Regions from separate parts of the Homo sapiens genome. Here regions 2, 3 and 4 are each reported to be linked to region 1. Evidence: microRNA targets listed by miRTarBase, many of them from high-throughput screens and not tested one by one. Region 1 holds a microRNA gene; each other region holds the end of a gene's coding sequence.

Evidence for each region. Region 1 holds the annotated microRNA hsa-miR-4302 (CCAGUGUGGCUCAGCGAG, at 3,503-3,520, opposite strand). A microRNA usually pairs through its seed, bases 2 to 8, with sites in the 3' UTR of a target mRNA and lowers its output. Matches are read on the target gene's strand: a 7mer-m8 pairs with bases 2 to 8, a 7mer-A1 pairs with bases 2 to 7 and ends in A, and an 8mer does both.
Region 2: the mRNA of CFAP418 is a reported target of hsa-miR-4302. The part of its 3' UTR that is shown has no 7-base or 8-base seed match.
Region 3: miRTarBase lists SHMT1 as a target of hsa-miR-4302. Seed matches in the 3' UTR shown: 7mer-m8 at 820-826.
Region 4: miRTarBase lists CHCHD4 as a target of hsa-miR-4302. Seed matches in the 3' UTR shown: 7mer-A1 at 4,440-4,446 and 7mer-m8 at 3,929-3,935.

What each region holds. Positions count from the first base shown.
Region 1 is chr12:25,870,550-25,875,701 of GRCh38, forward strand. It overlaps MIR4302 (microRNA 4302), which reads right to left and starts at 3,530; the gene lies at 3,471-3,530.
Region 2 is chr8:95,243,240-95,248,391 of GRCh38, forward strand. CFAP418 (cilia and flagella associated protein 418) reads right to left here. Exons shown (of 6, transcript NM_177965.4): 6 at 1,674-4,531. The coding sequence ends at 4,378. Among named protein-coding and RNA genes, the nearest start is that of CFAP418-AS1, 23 kb to the right of the region's middle.
Region 3 is chr17:18,324,009-18,329,160 of GRCh38, reverse strand. It overlaps SHMT1 (serine hydroxymethyltransferase 1), which reads left to right. Exons shown (of 12, transcript NM_004169.5): 12 at 242-1,288. The coding sequence ends at 411. It overlaps SMCR8 (SMCR8-C9orf72 complex subunit), which reads right to left. Exons shown (of 2, transcript NM_144775.3): 2 at 1,105-5,152. Among named protein-coding and RNA genes, the nearest start is that of SMCR8, 11 kb to the right of the region's middle. RefSeq lists a silencer at 3,328-3,437.
Region 4 is chr3:14,108,274-14,113,425 of GRCh38, forward strand. It overlaps CHCHD4 (coiled-coil-helix-coiled-coil-helix domain containing 4), which reads right to left. Exons shown (of 3, transcript NM_001098502.2): 3 at 3,804-4,921. The coding sequence ends at 4,614. Among named protein-coding and RNA genes, the nearest start is that of CHCHD4, 14 kb to the right of the region's middle.

The DNA.
Region 1 (5,152 bases):
TCCGCCTCCCGGGTTCAAGTGATTCTCCTCCCTCAGCCTCCCGAGTAGCTGGGATTACAGGCGCCCACCACCACGCCCAGCTAATTTTTATATTTTTAGTACTGACGAGGTTTCGCCACGTTAGCCAGGCTGGTTTCAAACTCCTGACCTCAGGTGATCCGCCTGCCTCGGCCTCCCAAAGTGCTGGTATTACAGGCGTGGTATTTGACTGTGCCCGGCCAAATAACCCAATTTCAAAACAAAATTAGCCGGGTATGGTGGTGCATGCCTGTAATTCCAGCTACTCGGGAGGCTGAGGCGGGAGAATCGCTTGAACCGGGGAGGCAGGAGGTTGCAGTGAGCCAAGATTGTGCCATTGCACTCCAGCCTGGGCAACTAGAGCTAAACTCCGTCTCAAACAAACAAACAAACAAACAAACAAATAAATAAGCCAGGTGTGGTGGCAGGCGCCTGTAATCCCAGCTACTCTGGAGGCTGAGGCAGCAGAATCACTTGAACCTTGGTGGGTGGGAGGGGAGAGGCTGCAGTGAGCCGAGATCGCGCCATTGCGCTGCAGCCTGGGCGACAGAGTGAGACTCTGTCTCAAAAAAAAAAAAAAAAAAAAAGGCAGAAACAACCCAAATGTCCATCGATTGATGAATGGTAAATAAAATGCAGTATATCCAAACAGTGAAATATTATACGAAAACACAAAGGAACTTGAAGAGCTGATACATGCTACACATGGACAAGTCTTGAAAAATATGATGCTGAGTGAAAGAAGCCAGTCAGAAAAGATCGCATATCCAGCCATAAAAAATGATGAGTTCATGTCCTTTGTAGGGACATGGATGAAGCTGGAAACCATCATTCTCAGCAAGCTATCGCAAGGACAAAAAACCAAACACCGCATGTTCTCACTCATAGGTGGGAATTGAACAACGAGAACACATGGACACAGGAAGGGGAACATCACACACCCGGGCCTGTTGCGGGGTGGGGGGAGGGGGGAGGGATAGCATCAGGAGATATACCTAATGTTAAATGACGAGTTAATGCGTGCAGCACACCAACATGGCACATGTATACATATGTAACTAACCTGCAGGTTGTGCACATGTACCCTAAAACTTAAAGTATAATAATAATAAAATTAAAAAAAAAAAAGAAAAGATCGCATATCGAATAATTCCCCTAACACGAAATCTCCAGAAAAGACAAATCTATAGAGATAAAAAGTAGATTAGGACAGGCATGGTGACCCACGCCTGTAATTCCAGCACTTTGGGAGGCCGAGGCGGATGGGTCTCCTGAGCTTGGGAGTTTGAGACCAACCTGGGCAACATGACGAAACCCCATCTCTACAAAAAACGCGAATAATTAGCCAGGTGTGATGGCACTGACCTGTGGTCCCAGCTACTCAGGTGTGGTGGCCCTGACCTGTGGTCCCAGCTACTCAGGTGTGCTGGCACTGATCTGTGGTCCCAGCTACTCAGGAGGCTGAGGTGGGAGAATTGCTTGAGCCTGGGTGGCAGAGGTTGCAATGAGCCAAGATCACACACTTCAACATGGGTAACAGAGTGAGACCCTGTCTCAAAAAAAGAAAACAAAAGTAGATTAATGATTGCCTGAGGTGGGGTGGGGGGAATGTTGAGGGGAGATAAGAGGAATGGGGAGTGATTTTTAGTGGGTAAGGGGTTTCTTCTTGGAGTGATGAAAATGTTCTAAAATTGGTTTTGGTAATGATTACACAACCCTGTAAATATAGTAAAAATAACTTAATTGTCTACTGTAACTGGGTGAACTGGTTGTATGTGAGTAATATCTTACCACAACTGTTAAAAAAAAAGTGTCAATACAAAATAAGGACAAAAAATTTTAACAACAGAGGTAAATTATTATGTGACAATACTAAGCAAAAAAGATGAAAGCAAAATTATTTATCTGTATATGTTCAGCTATGTGTAAAGTATATGCATAGAAGTAATTCTGAGAGCAAATATGCCAAACTACTTATAATGGTTCTTTCTCTTTACACTTTTGTATTCCATCTAAAATTACCATAGTGAGTAGGAACATTTTAACCAAAAATAAAAATTTTAAAACAAAAATAACAAAGCACTTTTCCTTTTATTACTTTGGTTAATAGCAAATTAGTCTGTTTCATCTGTCTATATTCATTTGCGAGTTTTCTTCTAGTCTTCTCTGTCTTTATCTTCTACCTCTTTTACTTGATAAGAGGAGTCCCAAGACTAGTACTCAATTTTGCATTTCTTTCTCATTTTTCACACAGCATCTGCTAAGGTAAAACTGTTACTAACTTATTGGATGGTTGACTTCAGCATATTGATTTTGAAGATTTTGGACTCTATATATGCATTTAAGGATAGTATTTCTATCTCTATAAAGTGGAATCTGGAACCAGATCCAACAATAGACCACTTAGAAAATATACTTTGTTCTATTATATTGAATTCCAAGTGTTCTCATTTATACAATTTGTACCAAATGTTAGATTGGAAGACAAAAAGAAGTTTGGGAGCACAGATGATTCTTCAACCAATTTCTCTATTTTAAAGACATAGTTGAGGCAATTAGATATCAAATAATCTGAGAGACAAAAAATTAGATTTAAAATAATCATAATGGTAACAATAGCTAATATTATTGAGTATCTACTGTATGTCAGGCATGGTTCCAAGCACTTTATGTTCAGTCCTCATTGAATTATCCCAATAATCCTAAGAGATAAGTGCTATTGTTATCCTCCTTTTGTTGTTGCTGTTGTTATAGGGTCTGGCTCTGTCACCCAGGCTGGAGTGCAGTGGTGCAATCTCAGCTCATTGCAACCTCCGCCTCCTGGGCTCAAGTGATCCTCCCACCTCAGCCTTTTGAGTAACTGGGACTACAGGCGTGTGCCAACATACTAGTCTAATTTTTCTATTTTTTGTAGAGACAGGGTTTTGTGATGTTGCCCACGCTGGTCTCAAACTCCTGGACTTAAGCGATCCACCACGTCAGTCTTCCAGACTGCTAGGATTACAGACATGAGCCACCATGACCAGCCTGTTATCCTCTTTTTATAGATTATGAAATAGAGGCTTACAAATGTTATGCCCACTTAATTTAAATTTACAAAGCTAATAAATATCAGACAAAGATTCAGATCCAGGTTTGTCTGACTCCAGAGACAGAACTTTAAACCATAAAGCTTAGAGACCTGGATTTGTGGAAAAAATAAAATAAACCATAAAGCTATATATCTTCATTTTCCCATAACACGTTTTTGAAATCATACAGTTCAATCAATTCTCTTCCTCCTGGAATAAAGCTGATTAAAGAGTTAGAGAAGTTGATGAGTTATAATGAGTTACAAAACAAGGAGTATTTTCTCTCCCTTTTTTTGCAAATGAAAAATGAGGTATTTGGAAGAGATGCTTTTTTTAAGCTTCATGACTTTGGTGATTTGGGAATAGAAATAGTAATTCTACCTCATTCCAATACCTTAAGTAAACTCAGCCACCTCGCTGAGCCACACTGGTCCCTCCTGAAGTGACCCCAGGATCTGCATCACAGTTTCAGAATTCCTCATCAGTATCCACCATGCTTAGAGCTCTGCTCTCCTGATGCCAACATCCCCACTTTTTTTGGTTCTTAGCAAACTCTTTCTCTTTGTGGAGCATTTTCCTTGGTGACTAAATTTAGACTCCGGCACACAACAGAATCTGTCCTCTGGCCTTATATGCTAATACTTTTGATAAATGATGCCTCAGTAGACTCCCAACTCTGGTCCCTATGGATCCCACCTTCACCAAACTGCTACCCCTTCATCCCCAGCCTCACACACACACACAGGAGGGAGGAGGGTCGGACAAGAGGGAAAATACCATAACCATGGAAGCAGGTAACGTGCTTCTCTCTGGCAATACCTGGCCATGTCACATTTCTAGAAACTTGGGCACTCATCGGCATAAATCTTACAAAGAGGGGCCTAAAAGCATTGTCAGCCTCTGGGGTGGGAGTCCAGGGATATCACAAAACACAAAGTTGTCTTCAAAAATCCAGTCATACTGTGCATATTTATCTGAGAAAAAAATCTCAAGGAAGAAATTCTTAAACTTCTCTGCCTCACCCATTTCAAGGTCTGATCATGTATTTTTCAGGAGGAATAGTCAAAAGTAAGGCAATTTCAAATGAAGACACCAGGAAAAAAATGTGAAGTGATTGTAACCAGCGAAAATAAAATTTAGGATTTGTTGGCAGTGTTTGTTGAAGAAGAAGGAAGAAAAGGAGTAGGAAGAGAGAGAAGGAAGGAACGAGGGAAGGAGACGAGGAAGGAAAGAATTAATAAGTCTGGTGGGGAAGAAATGAATCCTTTGTCAAAAATATTTCAGATGCTGAAATTCTGTTATTGTTTCTAGCTAACTAGAACGTTCTCCCTTTCCCTTTCGGCTGGATTATTTTCTTCTCATTCTTCAAATCTCACTTCCTCCTTCAGACTTCATCAATTCGTGCTTCCCTTCACTGATATCCATTCAGTGATATTTATAGTCCATTTATATGTATGGCCTTTGATTTTTGTTTAAATTTCAGCAATTGCTCACTGCCCATCCTGACTGGCCTCCTCCAGCACAGCTCCTAACACCCCTCACCCTGCTCACAAACACTCGTCGAGTCCAAACCAGCCTGGCAGGTAAGGCCTTCCATAATTTGGCTTCAACTCATGCTTCCAAACAACCTTATTTTCAGCTCTTCACTTCTTATGAATAACCATACAGCAGTGACCTTAACATTTTGATGGCAAACAGTAATGCTCACCACGTTCAGGTCACAAGCACATGTCTTGCTATTAGGAGAGTTGTAAAGGAAACAGCAGAAGCAGTCCCTCCCCAGAAAAATGCACAGTCTAATGGAGGTGAAATTAACTTCAGCAATAAACTTAAGATTCATATTGAAGAGGCACTTGCACTGACTCAGAAACTTTCTGCAGAGAATCTGAAGAAGAGCAGGAGCAGCAAGACAGAAAGCACTCAAGAGGTGACTTCGGAGGCTCAGTCACCAAACAATAGGCAATGTTGTTCTCTAAGCCTTGTACCAAAACTGATAGGGTAAAGGGTCTTCCAAATACAACTTTATTTATTAACAATCCTCCTTTATTCTGGTCCACCTGAGG
Region 2 (5,152 bases), not on the chromosome of region 1:
TGGCGATTCCTCAAGGATCTAGAACCAGAAGTTCAATCCCATTACTGGGTATATACCCAAAGGATTATAAATCATTCTACTATAAAGACACATGCACACGTATGTTTACTGCAGTACTATTCACAATAACAAAGACTGGGAACCAACCCAAATGCCCATTAATGATAGACTGGATAAAGAAAATGTGGCACATATACACCATGGAATACTATGCAGCCATAAAAAAGGATGAGTTCATGTCCTTTGCAGGGACATGGATGAAGCTGGAAACCATCTCAGCAAACTAACACAAGAACAGAAAACCAAACACTGCATGTTCTCACTCATAAGTGGGAGTTGAACAATGAGAACACATGGACACAGGGAGGGGAACATTACACACCAGAGGCTGGTTGGGGGCTAGGGGGCTAGGGGAGGGATAGCATTAGGAGAAATACCTAACATAGATGACAGGTTGATGGGTGCAGCAAACCACCCTGGCACGTGTATAATTATTTAACAAACCTGCACGTAACCTGCACGTTCTGCACATGTATCCCAGTACTTAAAGTATAATAATAACAAAAGAATGAGAACATTTATTAAGCACCTATTCTGAACCAAACACTATGCTAGTCACTTTTCATGTGTTATATGATTTAATCCTTACAACAAACTTACAAAAGTGGTATTATAATTCATACAGTTAAGGCGAACGAAGCCCAAAATGTCATGTGACTTTCTAAGGGACACGACTCTGAACTCTGACTTTGTTAAACTTCATTTGGTCATCCCTTATCTCAAGGCATTTGGGGAAAGTCAAATTTAATTATCATGTACTTGTATATATACATATCTAATGCAATCTTTTTTCTTTTTTGGTTTTTCTAGTGCATTCTTAAAATAGGGCACAAAATGATGTCACAAACCCAATGAAATACAATAAGATATGAAATCTCTAAAGAGATTGCGTATTTTAAATTTTTTCTTTCAGGAACTATTTTATACAAGAGATATTGCTGATTACTGGGAGCATTAGGTTGGCTGATAGAGATTTTGTTAAAACATTAGAAATATCAGCATTTGAAATTCATGGCTAAGCTTCATCACAATGCTTTTGGATACAAAGACCTTTTTCTTTCATATTCTTAAATATCAGTAAGAAAAAGAGAGAAAGCAATTCAGATTCATAGTCTGATGACATATTCTCTGGCCTAAGAAAAAAAGGTACTAAGTTTACTGACATCAACGAACAGGTTCTAGGTATACACCGCCAAGTCAGCATGGCCTGTTCTTCCTAAACTTGGACCTGTTCCTTTGAATACCCATGGTACTTTACACATGCATGCACACACATACTCTCTTTACACATGCATGTACACACACACACACACACACACACACACACACACACACACATCAGAGTTATGGCATACTTCTCCTCCCCAGTGTAGACAAATTATCTGTTTAACTGGATGCTTGGAAACTTTTCTGTTGACATTAAAAAAATTTTTTTTGACTGGGCATGGTGCTTCACACCTGTAATCCCAGCACTTTGGGAGGCTGAGGTGGGAGGATCGCTTTAGCTCAGGAGTTCAAGGAAGCAGTGAGCTATGATTGCACCACTGCACTCTAGTCTGGGCAACAGAGAGAGACTCTGTCTCAAAAAAAAAAAACATCAAAATGATTTCAAATTAATGTCCATCCAAATGAATATTTTACTATAAAATAAAAGAAGTAAATAATACAGAGTAATTATTTATTACTTATTCATTTCTAGGCAGGATGAGGGTCTGAGAGTATAATACAGTTCAAATAAAGAAGTTACCTGGCTTAAAAATAGCTACTTGCTAAAGATAGAAAATTATTATAAATCTTAAAAACAAACAGGCAAAACATCTTGAAAGTTTTATAGGCTTTGCATTTTAAAATTATAGATGATTAGAAACTATACTTTTCTTCTATACTGATACTAAAATAGTTTCATTTTCAGCTTAAATTACAACAGTTAATAATTTATCTGACTGTATATAAACATAATATTCTTTCTACATTTTAGTTTAAAATAGTACAATATTAAAAAGCTTATAAATTGCCAATAAACATGGGAACTCACACATACATTTCTGACATTGGGGGATTATTATAATTATTATGTTATGGAATGCCAAACATAGGCAATGTATGTAAGTTTTAGGATAGTTATAATGAAATAATAAAAGGGAAAAAAAAACCAGGACAACTTTGTCCCTTCAAAGTAGAGGCAATGTAGGCTACTTTGGGAGGCTGAGGCGGGCGGATCACGAGTTCAGGAGATCGACATCATTCTGGCCAACATGGTGAAACCCTGTCTCTATTAAAAATACAAAAATTAGCTGGGCGTGGTGGTGTGTGCCTGTAATCCCAGCTACTGGGGAGGCTGAGGCAGGACAATCACTTGAAGCTGCGAGGCGGAGGTTGCAGTGAGCAGAGATCGTGCCACTGCACTCCAGCCCGGCAACAGAGTGACACTCCATCTCAAAAAAAAAATTTTTTTTTTCAAATTAGTGATTTAGTAAATTTGCTTACTGGAATAAAAAAGAAAGAATTGCACCATTATGAATAATGTGTCAAATTCTATGAGGTTCTAAATGTGTGGATCTTGTTGCTCTGCTATTTTTTTCCAGCAGTCGACTTCAATCGACATCCCCCTAGGTTTCTGACTCAATTACATATAGATATAACTTTAGGGATATAATACATTTTTATTAAAAGATAAAATCTGTCATAATGTCTTTTTTTTTTTTTTGAGACAGAGTCTCACTGTGTTGTCCAGGCTGGAGCGCAGTGGCGCGACCTTGGCTCACTACAACCTCTGCCTCCCAGGTTCAATAAATTTTCCTGCCTCGGCCTCCCGAGTAGTTGGGATTACAGGCATGCACCACCGCGCCCAGCTAATTTTTGTATTTTTAGTAGAGATGGTGTTTTATCATGTTGGCCAGGCTGGTCTTGAACTCCTGACCTCAGCTGATCTGCCTGCCTCAGCCTCCCAAAGTGCTGGGATTACAGGCGTGAGCTACCATGCTTAGTCTGTCATAATATCCTTAATACAAAAGTGTGAGGATTGGCCATTATAAGATCTATTCTGTTGCAATGCTAGACTTACTACAATAAATTTTACAAGTATGTAAATGTGTCATGGCTAGGAAAAGGATTCTAATGATCAGATCTTCCTCCCTTCAGTAGGGTGGCTGGAATAAATTTAGCATAAGACTAAGAAGATTATAACTTTGTTTCAATTATTCCCTTTCAGGGTGCTCTGTATCACACATTTGAACTATATAGTACATATGTAGCAGGGAGTTTGTGGCAGATTGGAAAGCTCCCAAAATCTCTCAATGGGGTTGGGAGCTAGAAATTTTGAGGGACCTGATTTCCTGAATGTGCTGCTATTGTAGGGCTCCTCAGATCTCAGTGATGTCAGGAAGGAGCCCAACAGGTTACCTGTTGGTTCAGTTATGCTTTACTTGTCTTTTCACTTACTCACCTAATAAACGATATGTCAACCTGATCCTACCAGAGAAGTCCACAGGCTGCCTGAAAAATTATATTACTTGCTGTTTACTTCCCTTGATGGAGTTTTAGGCATTAAAGGATAGAAAGTACTTGGAAAATCCAACAATAACCTGTATGTATTAGGATTTTTGTGATTTTGGGTGCATCAAACTCTTTTTATATATTATTGGGTAATCAAAATAGAAAATAACTTTTGATAGTTAAATGAACAAAAGAGGGAAAAATAAGCTAAAACTGGTAACATGTATTTAATATTGTGCATAACATTGCTTTGAGTTGATGAGGTAAGATCAGCTATGAGGCAGTGTTTTTGCAAAATACCTGTAACTACTTCTGAACACCCTTCAGTCAGCCACTGATCACCTGGTTTCTGCCATGTCCAAATTATGATCTTTGGCAACAAAAGATCTGACTGGAAGAAGTGTTGTAGACACCCCTAAATGATCTCTTTGCCCTGGCCGGCTTTATCCACTTTAACTGCTACAAGTTGGGGAATGATTTGCTAAACGTATTAGCAATCAATATTGCAGTTGCTAATGAAAAACTAGATATTTGTATGGAACTCCATAATCAAACCTCTATTAAACAGAAGACAGATTAGTAAAGAATGTAGATGCCTGTTACTAAGTGAAACATCCATGTATCAGGAATAATTCCAAAGTGTTATAATACATGATCTTCCTTAGTCCATTTGGTCTTCAAAAATGTATGTAGTTGTATCAATAAAATTCACTGCCTTTTCCCACAGGGAATGGTATTGCTAGGGACTATTGTCTAAACATGATGATGATTCATGGAGACCACTCTCATGGATGCATCTGTCCGAATGTGCAGTCTGCATTCTTAATGTTTACCACAAACCCAGCGAAGCTGATGATCTGTCTGAAGGTCAGTCACTTCTTCAATAGTTCTCCAGCTACACTGGCAGGCATATGCCCGTGTTCCTTTCTTCTTTATCAACTTTGCTTTTAATTTGTGAAATTCTGGCATGTTGTTCCTATTAGTAAAACAGGAAAGTTTTAGCATAGTGGCTTTGTTCAGTGCTTAATGATTAAAAAAAAAAAAAAAGGTCATTGCTTTCTTTTCTTTTCTTTTTTTGTTTTTAGGAGTCTCATTGTTACTCAGGCTGGATTGCGGTGGCACAATCATGGCTCACTGCAGCCTTGACCTCCCAGGCTTCCCCTCAGCCTTCCAAGTAGCTGAGACCACAGGCATGTGCCACTATGCCCGGCTTAAAAAATTTTTTTTTGTAGAGATGAGGTCTCAGTATGTTGTCCAGGTTGATCTCAAACTCCTGGGCTCAAGTGATCCATCCACCTCAGCCTCCCAAAGTGCTGAGATTGCAGGCATGAACCATGGTGCCCAGCCTATTTTCTTATCTTCCCCGTATCTGAACACTAAACAACCTAGATCCCCTCACACTAACACTAGAAGATATGCTTCAGTGTTCTCTTTCTGATGGTATTTCTTTGATAATCTGTACTTTTTATGGCAATCCTCTAGGCCAGTTTATTGAATGTTGAAGAACACAATAACCTAAAGGCTGAAGAATTACAAACGCCCTATCAGAGATGAAATAATATGAAAATAGGGTGGAAAGGATGGTGGTTCATTTCCT
Region 3 (5,152 bases), not on the chromosome of region 1:
GGTGGGAGACAGCAAAAAACACATGTAAATCACCTTGTCTGAGAGGGTTATAAATTTGGGCTGCCCAGGACATCTGTCCAAGGGTGGGTGCATCTCAGAGTAATTGAGGTAAGCATGGAGACCTTGTGCCCTGCCACACTCCCCAGCTGGGGGACATTCTGACATTTGTGCCTCGGCCCCCAGCCATTGTACCCCCTTTGGTGTGTAGTGTGGGGTGACTCATTTGTGTCTTGTGGCACAGGGATAGAGCTGACCCTGCAGATCCAGAGCGACACTGGTGTCAGAGCCACCCTGAAAGAGTTCAAGGAGAGACTGGCAGGGGATAAGTACCAGGCGGCCGTGCAGGCTCTCCGGGAGGAGGTTGAGAGCTTCGCCTCTCTCTTCCCTCTGCCTGGCCTGCCTGACTTCTAAAGGAGCGGGCCCACTCTGGACCCACCTGGCGCCACAGAGGAAGCTGCCTGCCGGAGGACCCCCACCTGAGAGATGGATGAGCTGCTCCAAAGGGGAACTGTTGACACTCGGGCCCTTTGAGGGGGTTTCTTTTGGACTTTTTTCATGTTTTCTTCACAAATCAAAATTTGTTTAAGTCTCATTGTTAGTAATTCTGGGACAGGTTATTAAAGGATTTAAATTTGAACCTGGCTTTCTCACAGCTGGACATAATTCTAGGAAAATAAAATACTATGTCGCCACTTGGTCATAATCATTTAGATGGTGGTGTAGGGCAAAGCTGTTAGAAAGATTGTAGCGTTTTACTCTCCCTGGGCTTTCCTCCGCCTTGCTGCAACAGAGAGGAAATGCCCATGTCCACAGCTTGTACACACTGCCCCCTCACTATCTTGTTATCCAGTGGCATGCCAAAGGAGAACTGAATTAGCTTCTGAGGCTTCTGCTGTAAATCAGAAGTGTATGTTAGTCAAGAGTAAACAAGATGCACCCAGTATGGTGGGAGGGTTTTGCTGTCAGTAGCTCAAAGTATGGTGTAGAAATGGCCTCCTCCCTCCATCCTGGGAAGTCCCAGTCCCATCCTGGTGTGAGAATCAACCAGGCTTTCCTGCTCCACCTGAGATAACCAACTCCCTCCCGTAATCAGGAAGCCAAATGTCACCTTCCCAAAGAAATTTTATTTTCACGTAGCTGAAGTGCAAAACATAGATGACCATTTTTAATAAGCACAATCAAATTTTTAACCACAGAATGTCTACAAGAATTATAGCTTTAAAAAATACAACCAATTTTTATATTTCAAAAATATTTGAACTCAAATAAATTAATTTCTTAAAAAGTACACTTCTCATACTATGTGTTTGGCATTGACTCTGGTTAACTCTTGTGCAGCAACACCTACGAGATGCTATCACACACGCGCCAGCTGCACTCCTGCACCAGCCGCTGCAACGACTGCACCTCACGTGGTGGCGGGGACTCACATTCACAAGACGGGACGGGAACATGCAGTAATAAAATAGCTTTTTAAAAAATAACACATATAAATTCATCACATAGGATTATGCTTTTCACTGCAACCTTGAAGGTGGCATTTATCTCAATCTGTGACTCCAGCTATTTAGTGGCAGACAATCCCGGTGAGGCAGCCTGTGGTCCCACCTTGTAGGTGGCAGCCCCTGCAATCTGGGGTCTAGCCTGTCGGCGTTTGCTTTATTGTGGGTGGAGCAGCTGCTGCAGAATCTGTGAGTTGACTCACCAGTCCCTACAGTTCTGCTACCAAAGTGGTCTTCAATTTAGGGGCCTGACCCCTCCCCAGCTGGAGACAAGCTGCCATCTCCAGGGCTCGCTGTAAACAGCCTCCACTCTTGGGCTGAATAAGCACTCCCAAGAAGCTGGGCCCCTACCAACAGATTAATCGGCTGCAGAGTGCTCATCCCCTCCCCACACCCCCATCCACCCCTGCCTCCTCCTCCTTTCCACTGCTTTAACCAAACCTTAATGAGGTAAGGCCAGGCTAGGTCAGGGCTCAAAGGAAAATGGGCTCAGGAAAACTTAGTTTGCCCAGCCTTGTCAGCTGAGATTGGTTTTGCTTTCCAGCCAGAAGTAGAAACTTGATGCTTTTTCCTTTTTGCAGTGTTAAAAACCATATCTCCAGTTTTATTATGTTCCATCACAGTTTTGGGGCAAAGCCAGAAAGCTGACTTGTTTGCTTCAAAACACAAACCAAGGCACTGTCTTCTGTGCTTTTCAGGGAGGTGGGAAGGTAAAGGAGACTGCCCACTATAGGGGCTCAGTTCCCCCAAAGGCCTTGCACACCTTCTGATAAACCCCCTGGCTGAGGCAATCCTACTGGCTGTGCAGACAAAGATGTGACAGCAGCACTAGATGCTGACCCAACAAGCAGTGCTGGGCCTGGGCGGTGGGGCATGTTCAGCACTGCGGGCAGCAGTCAGCACATGCAAGACATTCAGTGAGCAGAGGGCTGCCCTCGGCCTCCAACTGCAGCCGCCCTGGCGCGTGAAATGAAATTGGTGGGCCTTCCTAGGATTGTAAAATGGGACTTGTCATTTGTGTGAGGTTGAAATCTACTATACTTTGAATATGGCAACTGTTTTCAACCACTGAAGCAAAGAAGGTAAAGGCCAGATGGGGAATGAAAGGTAAGGTACTGTGGTCTATTTCCAAATTTGGGAGCAATGTGTGTAACTTCAACTGTTGGAGTAAATGAGTTATGGAAAAGCCACAATTTCTAAAATCCCAAGGTTCTACCAAAGGAGTGAGGTTCCTGGGGAAACAGGCATGAGGCAGCAGCTCAGGCTGATGTGTCCTGTGCGATATAAAAAGCTGTGGCCTGATCTCTAAAGTGGGGCTTTTGAAAATCACCAGTCCACAACTACCTGCCTGGCTAGTTTAACCTAGACTGCTTCAGAAGCAAGGGAGGGGGATAATGGACTGGAGAAAAAGCTGACACAAAACTCAAGACAACCAGTTTCAGTACCTGGGCCCTCAAAGCAATAGTGAGGACTGAGAAAGTAGCAAGGGGCACTGATGTCATCTATTTTCTGGGAAGTGTAATTTTTAATGGTTTCATTAAAAACTTACTAACCTTCTACTGGAAGAATACCTCAAATGAAAAATTTTTTTTTTTTGAGACAGTTTTCGCTCTTGTTGCCCAGGGTGGAGTGCAGTGGCGCGATCTCGGCTCACTGTAACCTCTGCCTCCTGGGTTCAAGTGATTCTCCTGCCTCAGCCTCCCGAGTAAGTGGGATTACAGGCACGCACCACCAGACCTGGCTAACTTTCTTTGTATTTTTAGTAGAGATGGGGTTTCACCATGTTGGCCAGGCTGGTCTCCAACTCCTGACCTCAGGTGATCCGCCCACCTCGGCCTCCCAAAGTGTTGGGATTACAGGCGTGAGCCACTGCGCCCGGCCTCAACTGAAAATTCTTGATGAGATTAGTCCCACTGCATAGGTCTCAGCACTGAGGTTTAGAGATGTGAGACTCAGAGTAGGTTTCAGTTCCCCGGAGTGAAGGGGGCATAGGGAGGGGCAGGGCTTCCCAGTGTTAACTGCCTCTGCCCAAATCATGACTCAGTCCTGGTACCACGTCAAGATCCCTTTGAAAGGAAACATACTTTGCATCAAGTAATCCTTTGAAACTGCCACATTGAAAAGTTAGTTTTTAACCCAAATATAAATCTGGGAGCTAAACACTAGTCACGAAGCCATCTTTACTTAATGAAGAACCACCTTGAGGGAGACCAGCCCTGCTTGCCACTTACATGGCTGCCCCTGAGACGGTCTGTTCTGTTCATGCCCCAGCAGCCTTTTGCCTTAGGTTTCAGGACCTTCTGAACCACCCTTGAGGGTGTGTGCCAGCAAATACCTCAAGTGGACTTCTACTTAGGACCACTTGAGGGCACAACTTCAGCTTCTAGAAGGCCAAGTGTGGCTGCAATTCAGGATCTGCCCCAAACTCATCAGCCCTTCCCAAGTTTCCCAGGTGAGAACAGTATGAGCTGTGAATTTCTGTGTTGGTGTGACAGGAATGCCACAGTGGTGGTGCCAGTGATCACTTTCTGACCTTCCTTCCTTCTCAGATAAAATGTTGCACAGTTATGGCCTTGGAGGCCTAAGTAGACAGCAATTAACCAGCCAGTGAGAAAACGAATCAGCATCTAGAACAGGAGGGGAGGGAACCGTAACAGATAAGGGAGCCCACGATTAGAAGCAGGCTCCCTGCACAGCCTCTGCCTCCAGCGCAAGTAACAGACGTTTCACATTTAAAGGCTGCCAAGGTATTGCTGGCGACTCTCCTGTCTGTGAACATGCGCAACGGGCACAGGTACAGAGAACCAATGAGATGTAGGCAGCACCATCTGCCACAAAAGGTTCTCCATCGCAGCCCCAGGAGCAAAATCAAACACCTCTGATGGGAGCAAGGACCCTGAACAGAAGCCAACGGCTGGAGCCAACGGGCCATGCCCTTAAAACGAGGACTTGGACAAGGAGGGAACCACTGGAGTGACGTGATGCAAGCCCTCTTCGGTCACTCTTGGCTTCCACCAGGGGTCTCTGCCTCCTTGATGAGAAGAGAAGCTGGCTGGCTCCATGATGACCTCGATGGCGTACTACAGGCCGATGGGCAGGCCGGGCCTCAGCAGCAGGCGCCAACAGAAGCACACCCAGGGCTGATTCAGGTCCATTTCAGCATAATTTTTGTGGAACAAATTAAAGAAGCAGTAATACCAGAGCTGTCCCCACTTAGGGAATAAAATTTTCAAGGCTGCAAGAAACTCTCTGTCTACAAACCAGTGGCCATTGCCTAAGGAGGCTCGGGGAGGCCAGGGGATCACTATCAGTGGGATAGGTGCTGGCGGAACCAGGGGGTGTCTCCTTCCCAGTTTCAAACTTGTCCTCAGAAGGGGGACTCAACTGGGGACGGCCGTGAGCTGTGGTGACTGAGGTGCACACAGCCTCCCAGAGGCAGAACCTGAAGAGCGCCACGTGGTAGCTCATCCAGGAAATCCGTGCTATTTGAGTTCTCATCGGCTGGGCCAACCACCTGCACCAGCTGACTAAACAGAACCGTTGCTGTCCCAAGCCCACGAGACCCAGTGAGAGGTAGTGAAGTGGTTGCAAAGGTTTATGTGGGTGGGAGCTGGAGTGTGGCCTCTGCCATGTTCACACGGGTCTGCAGA
Region 4 (5,152 bases), not on the chromosome of region 1:
TGCATTTCCCCTGCCTTTGACCTGGAATCAGCCATTTTTCCAAGGAGCCCTTTTAATGAGAGATTGGTTTTTGGAAACCAAGATCTGGACTATAGGCATACTTAATTTTACTGAGTGCTGTAACTTGTAGGCCTGTTGAGTGGACATACCATATCTACTTTTTCACTTAACATTGCCTGCAAGTTGGTTTATATTAGTTCATGGAGATGTTTATTCTTGTTTATGGCTACATAGTACTCAATTGTGTAATGTACCGTGGTTATTCAACCAGTCTCCTGTAGATAGGCATTTAGGATGTTTGCAGTCTTGTATTATTACATCTAATGCTGCAATGAATAACCTTGTGCATATCTTGTTTTTTATTTGTGGAGATGTGGATTCAGGGTAAATTCCGAGCAGTGGGCTTACCTACTCAAAAGGTAAATGCGCATCTGTAGTTGTTGTTAGATAGTCTCAAAATCCCTTCCATAGAGGTCACACCAGTCTGCATGCCTGTCAGCACTTGCACAGATTATTAATTCATTGTTACATTTTGCTTAAAATTGAGTTAGGAAGTTTGGTGAATAAATGTTTTGGGGACTTTTTTTTTTTAAAAAAAAGATATTTCCTGGTCATATGTGCCATATTTTCTCTATGGTCCATACCACAGAATTTGCTTGTTTCTAAATTATGCCTGTGTTTATTTACATTCATTTATGCTAAATTGTTTTCCAAATAGTTTTATAAATTTACCTCCCATACCAGCAATGTGTAAGAGTTTTCCTCTTAGCCAACACTGTGATCAACGTTTTTCATTTTCCTCAATTTGGTAAGTTTGAAATTGTAACTTGTTTTATTTTCTATTTTGTATTTCCTTGATGAATAATGAGGATAAATATATTTCCAAATGAACGTTAGACATTCTTGTTTCATTTTCTGTGAATAGTCTGTTCATGTCTTTTGCCCATTTTCCTATTGGCTTATGTGTAGTTTTATTATTAGGAGTCCATTAGATATTCTATATATTAATCTTTTGCCAATCATATGTGCTACAAATACCTTCTCTGGGTTTGCAACTGTTTTTTACCCTGTTTATGGTATCTTTTTCCAAGGTTTAAACTTTTTATTATAGAAAAACTTGAAATACACACAAAAACAGAAAGGATAGTATAATATTAGCTTTGCATTCATTACCCTGCTTCAAAAGTCATGAACTTATGGCCAATCTTCTTTTTTCTACACCTACGACTTCTCCATCTTATGTTGAAACAAATCCCATTAGTAATATAACTTCATCAACAAAAGTCAATATATTTCTATCAAATGTAGGGATTTTCCTTTTTAAACATAATCACAGTGGCATTACCATAACTGAAAATTTAATAGTATTCGATATATTAAGTGTTCAATGCTCGCATTTTCCTGAGATATATCCATTAACAATATAACCTTGGGCTAGTTATTTCATGAAAAAGGCAAGGAATGAAATTTCTGCTTTTCTGGCTCCACTATGAAAATCTAAGAGCTGCTTTTAGCTGTAGCCAGCCTGTTCATGTGCAATTACTATGCCATTTTATATCAGACTTCAGATTTTAACTTCATAATATTTTAGTAACCCATAATGTCTCAAAACTACAAGAAAGCAGCCGTTATGTGAAAATGAGTCTCTGCTGGGCATGATGGCTTACACCTGTAATCCCAGTGTTTTGGGAGGCTGAGGCAGGAGAATTGCTTGAGGCCGGAAGTTTGAGACTAGCCTGGGCAACATAGTGAGACCCCATCTCTACAAAAATAAAAACTTAGCCAGTCATGGTGGAGCACGCCTATAGTCTCAGCTACTTGGGAGGCTGAGGTGGGAGAATCGTTTGAGCCCAGGAGTCCAGGGCTGCAGTGAGCTATGATTGTGCCACTGCACTCCAGCCTAGGCAACAGAGCGAGACCCTGTTTCTAAAATAAATACATGTTAAAATCTGTACAGTCCTAGAACTAAGGACTAGAATGTAGTGTTCTATTAAGAAGCTTGGCTGATATGCTGCACTTGCCTATAACACAAAAATACAAAACAGGCTGAGCATTCCAGCGCTTTGGTAGGCTAAGGCAGGAGGATCGCTTGAGCCCAGGAGGTTGAGCCTGCAGTGAGCCATGATTATGCCACTGCACTCCAGCCTGGACAACACAGCGAAACTCTCTTAAAACACAACACAACAAAACAAAACAGACATAAAACATTGTGTTGGTAATTGCATTTCCAAATCAGTGTTATTTTGAGCAGCCCTTTGTTTCAATTATTGCTGTTCTTTAAAAATCATCAACTTGCATTTATCTGAATCATTAACTCTTTGATCTATTGGTGTTCTTACATTTAAAGATACACAGCAACTTAAATATGAATTATCCAAACCCCTTGTAGTAAAGCATAATCTCCACCCACTTCCAATTGCTTATACGGTGCCAATTCCTTATCACCAATTTGTTTTTCCAGTGATAAGTGGAAAAGGATGGAACCTTTTGCCTAACCCAAGTCGAGTTGGGCAGACAGTTCGAGAATCTCTGCTGTAAGTTACCATGGCTGGAAGAACCCAGCCCTGAAAATCCAGCACCATTATGTAACACTCATCCATTCCTTTCTGCTTTCTAGTAAATGTTGACTTCCTGGCTAGATTGTAGCTTCATGGGCAGTACCATGAATGAATCACTCTATGTCCCTAGGGCTTGGAACTGTAGATTCCATGAATGCATCAAATAAATGGGGTACATGACATGGTCACAAAACAGTAACACCTTGATTGTGACCAAAATTTTAACAAAAGAAATATCGTTTTTAAATGTGCAAAACTCTGTTAAAAGAAGTCGTTAGGGTCTGTCATGCCTTCCATGCTTGGCCAGCTCCAGGTTCTTAGCTCCTAATCAAGCAAGGTTTAAAAAAGCTCTGGATATAGAAAGCAGTTCTCTACCTCCATACACCTCCCAACCACAAATCCTTGCATTTTAACCATGCCTTCAAGCTTTAACATGGTGGCGCCTCATTCTCCAGTGTGGCAGGCAGCTTCCTGTTACTCGTATTCTTGTGTCCCTCTCCTTGAGTGTGGGCTGTGTCTCACTTCTAACAAACAAATAGACTATGGTAAAGTTATGGAATGTCCGTTTTGAGATTAGGTGATGAAAAGGCTCTGGCATCCATCTTGCTCTCTCGCTTGCTCTGATGGAAGCCACCTCCCATGTTGTGAGCTGACCCTTTAAGGCAAAGGCCATGTGGCAAGGAACTGAAGGAGGTGTCTGGCCAACAGCCAGTAAGGCACTGAGGCCCTCAATCCACAGCCCACAAGATTCAACCCACTGAACCCTCCCAGAAACCACTTCGAGCGATCTTGAAAGGCCTGTCCCACCTTGAGATGACTACAAGTATCATAGCCTCATGAGACACTGAGCCAGAGAACCCAGGTAAGCCATGCCCAGATTCCTCGTTTCAAGCTATTAAGTTTTAAGGCAATTTTTTACATAAATAACTTAACACATTTGAGACAAATGAGGCATTACTATGCCACAGCCTGAAAACTGTCTAGCAGTTACCTTAGGCAAGTTAATCTATTTTCAAACAGGAAGAGCCTTCCCCACCTCATAGACTAACTGTAATGTCTGTGTGAAGGCATCTGCTCACATATAAAATAAGTAAGCTTCCTTTGAACTCAACACAGAAAATTTTAACGGACTCAAATTGGTTTACCAATATCTTTCAAGAGGAATTTCAATTGAATTGTTCATAATTTATACTTTTTTATATAGAAAACATTTTTAACTAGTGAAAACAAAGGACACATTCAAAATCAGGTAGAAATCATGTTTCCTTTTAATTGAATACTTAATTCACAACGTTTCCTCTCTTGCTGCTACTCTGGTAATAATTAGGTCCCCACCTCTCAAGAACATTGCACCTGACTAGACTGAGAGCCAGTGTGAACATGGGCCCCAAACCAGGGCTTTCGGAATAACAAGGAACAGCCAAGCCAGCCTCTCCCTTCACTTAGAAAGGGATTATGAATGGAAGGGTCCAAATCTTCATCATCCAAACACAGAAAACCAGGAGCTCAACACCTACATGGAAACCAAAATGTATCAGGAATAAAGTACAGTACCCCTTCACATACTCAAGGTCAAGATGGGTTTGCAGAAATCATATCTGACCATCTGGCCTCTGCTAGTAGATATGGCCCCATCCCAGCATTTTTAAGAGATGTTTTTGTTGTATTATTTCCCCAAGGGGTATAAAATCTACCAAAAGGAATATAATGAATCAGAATAAATCAGCTCACTCACAAGAAACGTTCTTGGGTAATGGTTTTTAGTTGCTGAGCTTATTCAGCACATTATTTAAAAGTGGCAAAATTCAGGGCAATCTGAGAATTCAAAAGTGGCGGCCACAGGTTTGGGTAGGACACACATACATACAACCCCCATTTTTTTCAGTGTATATGTCAAGATGTCAAGACCTCAAGACCTCTGATCATCAAAATAAGTTATTTTGTATATTATAATGCACAGGACAACAGAAGGAAACTTTCTTGGAAGGTGATGACAAGGCCTTTTGCAAAAGGTCCACTCCAAAAGGACTGGTGCCCAGTGCCTTGTGGCCTTCATTAACTTGATCCCTCCTCTTCTTTGGTTGCAGTGGCCTCAATGGGAGCTGTTTCTTCTGCTTGTTCTGCTGGCTTCTTCTCTCTTTCCTCTTCCTCATCCTCATCCTCTTGGGGATAGAGGTCTGGGTATTTCTGCATGCATTCCTGCATGGCCCGGAACTGGTCTACACAGTCTGACCCCTTGATCTCCTCCGTGCTATAGTGGAAGCAGGAAAAGGCTGACTTAAACTGTTCTCCACAGGGACCGCTGGCCATTCCCCCAAGGCATGGGCAGTTCCAGTTAATGTTTCCATTTGGCAGTATCAATCCTAGAACAGGAAGATAGAGAGATGTTCTCTAAAGTTTCAGAAAATACAAAACTAGTCCAGTCCTCACAGGCTACTGAGGGGGTGCAGAACAGGAACTATTGTTGCCTATGGACCCACACCTCGATTTGGATTAGGTTTAAAGCCTAGCACATATCCAGCATTCCTTGGCCCACCTGGGAGAGAAGCCACCAATGACATATTTCTCCACGTGTGACACTAATTTATTCTAAG